2 separate regions of the Homo sapiens genome follow, and region 2 is linked to region 1. Evidence: fine-mapped expression QTL. A gene starts in region 1. The other region holds a variant in brackets. All regions are shown on one strand. Distances are between the middles of the regions.

Region 1 (4,386 bases):
CAACTTTCTACTCAACATCTCCACTTGGATGTCTCAAGCTAATAGACCCACTCATGTTTCCCACTCCCACACACTAACTGGTCCTCTTTCAGGATCCCGGCTCATGGAATGATAGAATCCATCCTATTCTGTGAATCTGAAGTAGGGGTACATCTTGACATGTCCTTCTCCTGCACTTGCTATGTTCAATCCATCTCTAGGTACTGATGATTTCCTCTCTGAGAAAAATTTCTGGACTTCATCTACTCTCCACATCCACTACCATCAAGGACAAAGACCTTAAGACAAAATTCCCTTTTTTTTTTTTTTGCGATGGAGTCCTGCTGTGTCACCCAGGCTACAGTGCAGTGGCAAGATCTCGGCTTACTGCAACCTCTGCCTCCCGGGTTCAAGCGATTCTTCTGCCTCAGCCTCCTGAGTAGCTGGGATTACAGGCACACACCACCATGCCCGGCTAATTTTTGTGTACTTTTAGTAGAGATGGGGTTTCGCCATGTTGGCCAGGCCGGTCCTGAACTCCTGACCTCAGGTGATCCGCCCGCCTTGGCCTCCTAAAGTGCTGGGATTACAGGCGTGAGCCATCACGCCTGGCCCTTAAGACCAAATTCTTAACATGGCCTAAATTTCCTGCTCAGTCTGGCGCCTGCCTTCCTCCTCCCTGCCCCTGGCTTTGGTCACACTGCTCTGCAGCCTCAGTAGCCTTCTTCTGATTCCTCGAAGACATGTGTTTTCCTTCTACAAGGTGTTTGCATGTGATTTCCATGCTTCCTGGGACCTCTTCTCCTACTCTCTAAGCTGAATTAACTTCTACTCATCCACTATATTTTAGTTCAAACGTCATGTTCTCAGAGAAGCTGTCCTCCAACCCTCTCTCCCTATCCCCGAGACCAGTTTAGCTACTGCTCTTGTGCGTTCTCAAGGCACCATACAGCTTTTCTTCATGGTACATATTACATTTGTAATGTTATTCTTATTTGATTTTTCTCCTAGATTGTCAGCTCCAAGGACTCAGTCTCTTTTGCTCACAATTATATCTTCAGGACATAACACAGTGCCTGGCATATATTAGGTGCTGAAATCATATTTATTGCATGAATAAGTGATTGGAAGCATTTTTCAAAGGATTACTCTGGGTACTGTGTTGAGAACAGTTAAAGGGAGGTAGGCAAGAGGGTATGCTATTAAAGTAGTCAAGGAAAAAAAATGGTGGTGGCCCAGATTAACTTTGGTGGCAGTGAGGAAAGAGCGAAATGAATGGATTTGAGAAATATTTAGGCAGTGGATGTGACAGAACTTGGTGAAATGAGATGCAGAGAGTGAGAGAGGGGTTAATCTCAAGTCTTGCTCATGACTCCAGATTGGCAAAGAGCCATTTTTGAGATTCGAAGGAAGAACAGATTTGGAAGTGGGGTACAGAGAAAACCACAGAAGATAATTTAGCTTGGAATCTATAGGTTTGGAACTCCTGTTTGTCTTTCAAGGAGATGTCAAGAGAGCAGCTGGACATATGAGTCTGGATTTCAGGAAAGAAGTCTGGGCTGGATATATAAATTTGGGAATCATTAGCATATATATGAAATTTGAAGCTTTGGGAGTAGATAAAATATCTGGGGAGAAAGAACAGATACTGAGAGAAGACAGCTCGGGACAGAGCCAAGAGCCTCACCAGCATCTAAAGAGAGGAGGAGAGGAAGCAAATGAGATTGAGAAGAGCAGACAATGCTGTAGGGCAGAAAGCAGGAAAATGCTTCAAGGAGAGTGAGTTGACATACCCCACCGAATACTACTCAAAGGTAAAGGAGATAACAGTGTCCACTGGAGTTCTCCACAAGGAGGTCTCCGGTGACCTTGGCCTAGACAGTTTCAGTGGGTGTCAGGGACACAGAGTGGAGTGCTTTTAAGAATGAATGGGAAGTAAGGAAATGAAGACAGCAAGCGTTGACTCTGAAGGGCGGAGAGAGCTGGGACTATAGCTAGAGGGGCTCAGAATGCAAGAGATACACAGGCCGATACAAAACAGGTTAGGAATTGGCAGTGGGAAAACTGCTTCTAATCAGTGTTCTTGGCAGTGCTAGGCCTCCTGGCTGAGCTGGGGACACAGCCGCCCCAGGGCACACCCCTCGGTCGCTGAGGGCAACAGAATGCGGCTTGACAGATCCAGGGCCTGGGACCCCTGCTGGAATCGGCGCGGCCTGCCAGCCCACCCCACCCCACGTCCCCTTCCCGGACCTGGGCCTCCCCTCCCCCAACACCCACTGCCCCTCGCTTCGCGTCCTCCATACCCGCCCCTAGTCACCCCGAGGGGCAGGAGGTAAAGGGCAGCGGAAGGGACGGTGTGAGGGCCCGAGTGGACCCTGCGATGGTGGGTATGAGAGGACGGTCTGCGGGCGCGCGGTGGAAGGGCGACCCGGGGATGGGGGATGGGGCCGGCCGGGGGACCCGGGCTGCCGCAGGGTAGGGGCTACAGGGTCCGCCGGCCGCTGGTGATCGGGACGCAGCCACCGGGGCTGGGCCGGGGCAGGGACACCTCCTACCTGCGCGGTGAGGCCCCGGGCCCAGATGACGGAGGTGGCTCAGGCTGCGGGGTTCGGGCTCCGCCGCGGCTTCTCCATCACAACATCCCCCGCCCAGGAGCGCGCGGGCCGCGGGGCCGCGCCCCGAGCGGCGGAGGCGCGCGCAAGGGGAGGGGGAGGGGCGCCATCTTGGGGCGGGCGCGGGAGCGAGCTCGGCGGGCGCGGCACTTGCCGCAGCTTCTTGGGGGCCTCACCCTGCGGGCGGCCCTCGGACCTCGGTGAGCCCCGCGGTCCAGCCCTCCCAGCAGACACCCCTGCAGCCGACTCCCTGGGACCCCCGCCTAGCGCGGCGCCGTCCTCCACTACTATTCCACAGACTCACCCTGCGCGCCCCGCAGCGCCCTGGTCCCGCACCCACGCCGGGAGACGCGCGGACGGGGCTGGAGCCCGAATGGCGGCGGCTGTGCGGCGCCGCGGCCGCGCGGGGAAGGATTCCCGGGAGGCACTCTGCGCCGCTCCTGCTGCACCGCTCCCTGACGTCCTGGTGGGGAGGCTCTGAGGACACAGCGTTGCTCATAATAATAGCTCGTATTTATTGACCACTTACACCGTGCCGGGCTCTCTATTAAACCGTTAACGCGCATTAATCTTCACATCAGCTCTGTAAAATCACCAGAATTATTATCCTCATTTTTCAGAGGCTGAGGCTAAGATTAAGAGAGGTAAAGCGACTTGCCCGCAGTCACAGTTAGTGATGAATTTAGACTGGAACTCCGATGTTTCTTGACACTGAAATACCTCTGCTGCTGAGCATAAAGCTGACATCAAGGCCTGGAAAATGTCAAGAATACATTGCTCCCCGGTAGAAATTCACAAGGAAGGGGATATTGTGAATGAAAAGTGTAAAGATGTAAGGAAGATGGTGGGGTGCAATACTTACTACAGACCCTCCCTGGATAGTGGGATACATCCCAATGGTCAGATCAGTGACCCAGAGGCCATCAAGGATAATGAGAGGTTATATTACCATCCAGAAAGCCTCTACATGCTAATCCCTCTCAGGTGCCTAAAACTAAAGATATCCAAATCTGAGTTCGTTCTTTCTTTCAAGGCAGGGTCTCACTCTGTCACCCAGGGGCAAGATCATGGCTCTCTGAAGCCTCAGCCTCCAGGGCTCAGATTCCTCCCGCCTCAGCCCCCGGAGTACCTGGGCCACAGACATGTGCCACCGCGCCTGGCTTTTTGTATTTTAGTAGAGAGGGGGTCTCACTGTGTTCCCCAGGCTGGTCTGGAACTCCTGTGTTCAAGCGATCCTCCCACCTCGGCCTCCCAAAGTGCTGAGATTACAGGCGTCAGACACAGTGTCCAGCCTCAATTTATTGTTTCATCCCCCTTTATTAGTCTTTTAAGGAGTTTCACTGGGGTGAAAAAGAACCCTCTTCAACACACACAACACAACACACATCCCACACTGGACACAACTCCATTCCATCCATTCCAATGAATGACACCAACTACTGGCTTCCCAAGCCAGAAGCTTCAAAGTCATCTTTGAATATACTTTTATTTTACTTGTGGTAAATATAAATGTTTTAACTTTTTATTATGGCAAATTTCCAATATATACTAAAGCAGACAGAACAATATAATGAACCCTCATATACCTATCATTCAGTTTCAACAATTATGAATTCACAACCAATAGTTTATAATGATTTGACAAATGCCTATGATATATGAACCATGTATCAGGTCCCAAGCCAGGCCCTAGGGATCTAAAGACGAATCAGATTTGACTGCATCTCACCTGGAGGAAATGACATCTGACCTGGGTTCTTGAAAGATGAAGAAGAATTACCCAGAAGAACAAAAG
Region 2 (4,386 bases), 25 kb before region 1:
CGCCCCCCAAACCCCCTAGCCCCCCAGCCCCAGGTGCCCCTGTCAGCCGCATCCTCTTCCTCACTGACCTGCACTGGGATCATGACTACCTGGAGGGCACGGACCCTGACTGTGCAGACCCACTGTGCTGCCGCCGGGGTTCTGGCCTGCCGCCCGCATCCCGGCCAGGTGCCGGATACTGGGGCGAATACAGCAAGTGTGACCTGCCCCTGAGGACCCTGGAGAGCCTGTTGAGTGGGCTGGGCCCAGCCGGCCCTTTTGATATGGTGTACTGGACAGGAGACATCCCCGCACATGATGTCTGGCACCAGACTCGTCAGGACCAACTGCGGGCCCTGACCACCGTCACAGCACTTGTGAGGAAGTTCCTGGGGCCAGTGCCAGTGTACCCTGCTGTGGGTAACCATGAAAGCACACCTGTCAATAGCTTCCCTCCCCCCTTCATTGAGGGCAACCACTCCTCCCGCTGGCTCTATGAAGCGATGGCCAAGGCTTGGGAGCCCTGGCTGCCTGCCGAAGCCCTGCGCACCCTCAGGTACTTATCGTCCGTGGAAACCCAGGAAGGGAAAAGAAAGGTGAATGAAAGTGAAGGGAGAAGGGAACCTGGGGCATTGTCTCTGATTGCTCTAGCATGAGTCCTTAGTGCTCTTCATTTGGCTCCCCTAATCTGACTCCTCCTTCCCTTTCTACTGTTTTGCCGCACCAGGCTTTTTTTTTTTTTTTTTTTTTAGTTTAGTTTTTGTAGAGACAAGATCTTGCTATGTTGCCCAGGCTGGTCTCAAACACCTAACCTCAAGCAATCCTCCCGCCTCGGCCTCCCAAAATGCTGGGACCACAGGCATCAGCTACTGCTCCTGGCCCTCCCTTTTTTTTTTTTTTTTTTTTTTTTTTTTTGAGATGGAATCTTGCTCTGTTGCCCAGGCTGGAGTGCAGTGGCACCATCTCAGCTCACTACAGCCTCCACCTCCTGGGTTCAAGCAATTCTGCCTCAGCCTCCCAAGTACCTGGGACTACAGGTGCACGCCACCACACCCAGCTAATTTTTGTATTTTTAGTAGAGATGGGGTTTCACCATGTTGGCCAAGATGGTCTTGATCTCCTGACCTCATGATCTGCCCACCTCGGCCTCCCAAAGTGCTGGGATTACAGGCATGAACCACTGCACCCAGCTTTCCAGCCCTCCCTTTCTACTCTTATCTCCAGCCACCCTCCTTCAAAGGTCTGGCAGCATAACCTCTCTATGCCCCAGCTGTGTCTTTGCTCATGTTGGCCCTCTGGAAATGATTTCCCCCTTTTTTTTAAGTGCTCCAGTTTTTCCCACCTTATCCATCCCATGTCATCTTCCCTCTGTGTGGTCCTTGCTTCCCATTCTAGCTAACTCTTATCCCTCCCCCATACTCCTGGAGCCCTCTGCCCTCAGAGTCTTTTGTGTCACACAGACCCAATAATTAGAACTGTTTGGTCTCTGGCTAGACTGTGAGCTCCTTGCAGGTGGGGAAGATGTCATGTATGCTTTTACCCTCCACCCAAATGCCCAGCACAGGAGGACCAGGATTGGAACAAGTGTTGACCTCTCATGTTTACTTTGTTTCAGAATTGGGGGGTTCTATGCTCTTTCCCCATACCCCGGTCTCCGCCTCATCTCTCTCAATATGAATTTTTGTTCCCGTGAGAACTTCTGGCTCTTGATCAACTCCACGGATCCCGCAGGACAGCTCCAGTGGCTGGTGGGGGAGCTTCAGGCTGCTGAGGATCGAGGAGACAAAGTGAGGGCCAGTAGTGGGAACACGGTGGTGCTGGGGGACAAGCAGGCTCCTGTTGAGCTGGAGCACCTCTGGGCACAGAAGTTTTATTTTCCTGGCATTCCCAACAAGTGTTCCCTGGGGATTCAGCTCATGGTCACTGTTGAAA[G/A]CCTTCATTCAGTCCCCCTTTCTCTAGCCAGGGCTGCCTGGACCCCTGGATGCCCTGATTACCATCCTTAATTCTCCCTACTAGGTGCATATAATTGGCCACATTCCCCCAGGGCACTGTCTGAAGAGCTGGAGCTGGAATTATTACCGAATTGTAGCCAGGTAGGACGGAGATGAGGGTGGGAATAGGGACAGGGTGAGTGTCTGAAGGCTGAAAATTCCCTTGAGCATCTCACCATCCCTGTTGTCCCATGGAGTGGGGAGGCTCCTCACTAGAACAGGTTGGAGAAAGAGGGCATCCTATCTCCCCAGATGTCTTCCTACCCCTCCCTAGAATCTTCTGAATGTAGTACCTTCTGGCCAGGTATGAGAACACCCTGGCTGCTCAGTTCTTTGGCCACACTCATGTGGATGAATTTGAGGTCTTCTATGATGAAGAGACTCTGAGCCGGCCGCTGGCTGTAGCCTTCCTGGCACCCAGTGCAACTACCTACATCGGCCTTAATCCTGGTGAGTGAGGCAGAAGGGAGCCTCCCTTATCCTGGAGTTGGTGGGATAGGGGAAGGAGGTTGGAGCCAGAGCCTGCAAAGCATGGGCAGGATGTGTGGCCCCTCCCTGGAGTTACCCTTGCTCCTTGCCCCTCCAGTCAGCCCCACATCCTTGCAGGTTACCGTGTGTACCAAATAGATGGAAACTACTCCGGGAGCTCTCACGTGGTCCTGGACCATGAGACCTACATCCTGAATCTGACCCAGGCAAACATACCGGGAGCCATACCGCACTGGCAGCTTCTCTACAGGGCTCGAGAAACCTATGGGCTGCCCAACACACTGCCTACCGCCTGGCACAACCTGGTATATCGCATGCGGGGCGACATGCAACTTTTCCAGACCTTCTGGTTTCTCTACCATAAGGGCCACCCACCCTCGGAGCCCTGTGGCACGCCCTGCCGTCTGGCTACTCTTTGTGCCCAGCTCTCTGCCCGTGCTGACAGCCCTGCTCTGTGCCGCCACCTGATGCCAGATGGGAGCCTCCCAGAGGCCCAGAGCCTGTGGCCAAGGCCACTGTTTTGCTAGGGCCCCAGGGCCCACATTTGGGAAAGTTCTTGATGTAGGAAAGGGTGAAAAAGCCCAAATGCTGCTGTGGTTCAACCAGGCAAGATCATCCGGTGAAAGAACCAGTCCCTGGGCCCCAAGGATGCCGGGGAAACAGGACCTTCTCCTTTCCTGGAGCTGGTTTAGCTGGATATGGGAGGGGGTTTGGCTGCCTGTGCCCAGGAGCTAGACTGCCTTGAGGCTGCTGTCCTTTCACAGCCATGGAGTAGAGGCCTAAGTTGACACTGCCCTGGGCAGACAAGACAGGAGCTGTCGCCCCAGGCCTGTGCTGCCCAGCCAGGAACCCTGTACTGCTGCTGCGACCTGATGCTGCCAGTCTGTTAAAATAAAGATAAGAGACTTGGACTCCAGACCCCTGTGTGACTGTCCCAATTTCTTCTTTCCAGGCAAGCAGGGCAAGGAGATCTTTGGAGCAAGATCATAACTGAGGCACAGGCTAATGGGTTGATGGTGTGGTACAGGCATAAGAAGGCACACAGCAGTGCAGACAGACTTTATTAGTGATATCAATACAGCAGAGGTGCCCATGGAGCAGGGGGAAGGGACCCATGCCTGGACCAGTCCCTTCCTCCTTCTGCCCCTGCTGGGTCCAGGAGGATGAGGCCTGGCCTGGACCAGTTCCTCCTGTTCCACCTGAAACACATGGGGATGGAGAACCAGGGCTGGCCTTGCTTCCTGCTCCTCTTGTTACCACTCCAGTGTTATCACTTCCTTGAAGGGATTAGATCTCTCCCTCCCCAGCTCCTAGGCAGGGAACCGTAGCTACTGGGGAGGGGCATATTTGGGAGGCCTGAGGCCTAGGAATAGCCTCTAGACCCCTCCCTGACCCACACCCTTTAGTTCCCTGGGGCCCAACACAAGCAGGTGGAGGGAAGGTGGGGGCTTCTTCATGGGGTATGGGCCCCCAGCCGTTTGGGCTTCAGGGAGCCCCACAGCGACTGAACACCCCTGCGGACAGTCCACCCTACACGCCGTGCCACAGACTCAGCAGGGGGTGCTGGGAGGCAGGAGGTGGAGGCCTGGGAACGGGCATCCAGACACTTCTGGTAGCGAAGCTGCGGAGGCAAGCAGGGCAGTCACTCCCCAGCCTACCTCCCATGGGGCCACGCCACCACCACACCACCCTACTAGTAGCTTACCATGCACGCAGCCTGCACAGCCTCTGAGAGGCTGGCAGCATTGGGCTCGCACCAGAACATGTGGCAGCAGAAGGAGGCTGGGCCGGCAGCCATGATGAATGCAAACGTGTGGACATCTCTGCCCACGGCCAGGAAGGAGAGGAAACGCACCCGACACTCTCCCAGCACTGCCTCTGTCTGCATGGAGGGAACTCAGTTAAAAAGGAACACCAACCCCACACT

What was found.
Region 2: its variant is fine-mapped to the expression of APBB1 in whole blood (TOPMed, PIP above 0.99).

The regions. Positions count from the first base shown.
Region 1 is chr11:6,416,451-6,420,836 of GRCh38, forward strand. It overlaps APBB1 (amyloid beta precursor protein binding family B member 1), which reads right to left and starts at 2,644. Exons shown (of 15, transcript NM_001164.5): 1 at 2,535-2,644. RefSeq lists silencers at 2,412-2,601, 2,612-3,011.
Region 2 is chr11:6,391,622-6,396,007 of GRCh38, forward strand. It overlaps SMPD1 (sphingomyelin phosphodiesterase 1), which reads left to right. Exons shown (of 6, transcript NM_000543.5): 2 at 1-535; 3 at 1,595-1,766; 4 at 1,996-2,072; 5 at 2,275-2,420; 6 at 2,577-3,375. The coding sequence ends at 2,986. APBB1 (amyloid beta precursor protein binding family B member 1) reads right to left here. Exons shown (of 15, transcript NM_001164.5): 14 at 4,165-4,341; 15 at 3,504-4,080. The coding sequence ends at 3,913. Among named protein-coding and RNA genes, the nearest start is that of SMPD1, 3.3 kb to the left of the region's middle. The variant G/A (reference allele first, on the strand shown) is at 1,912.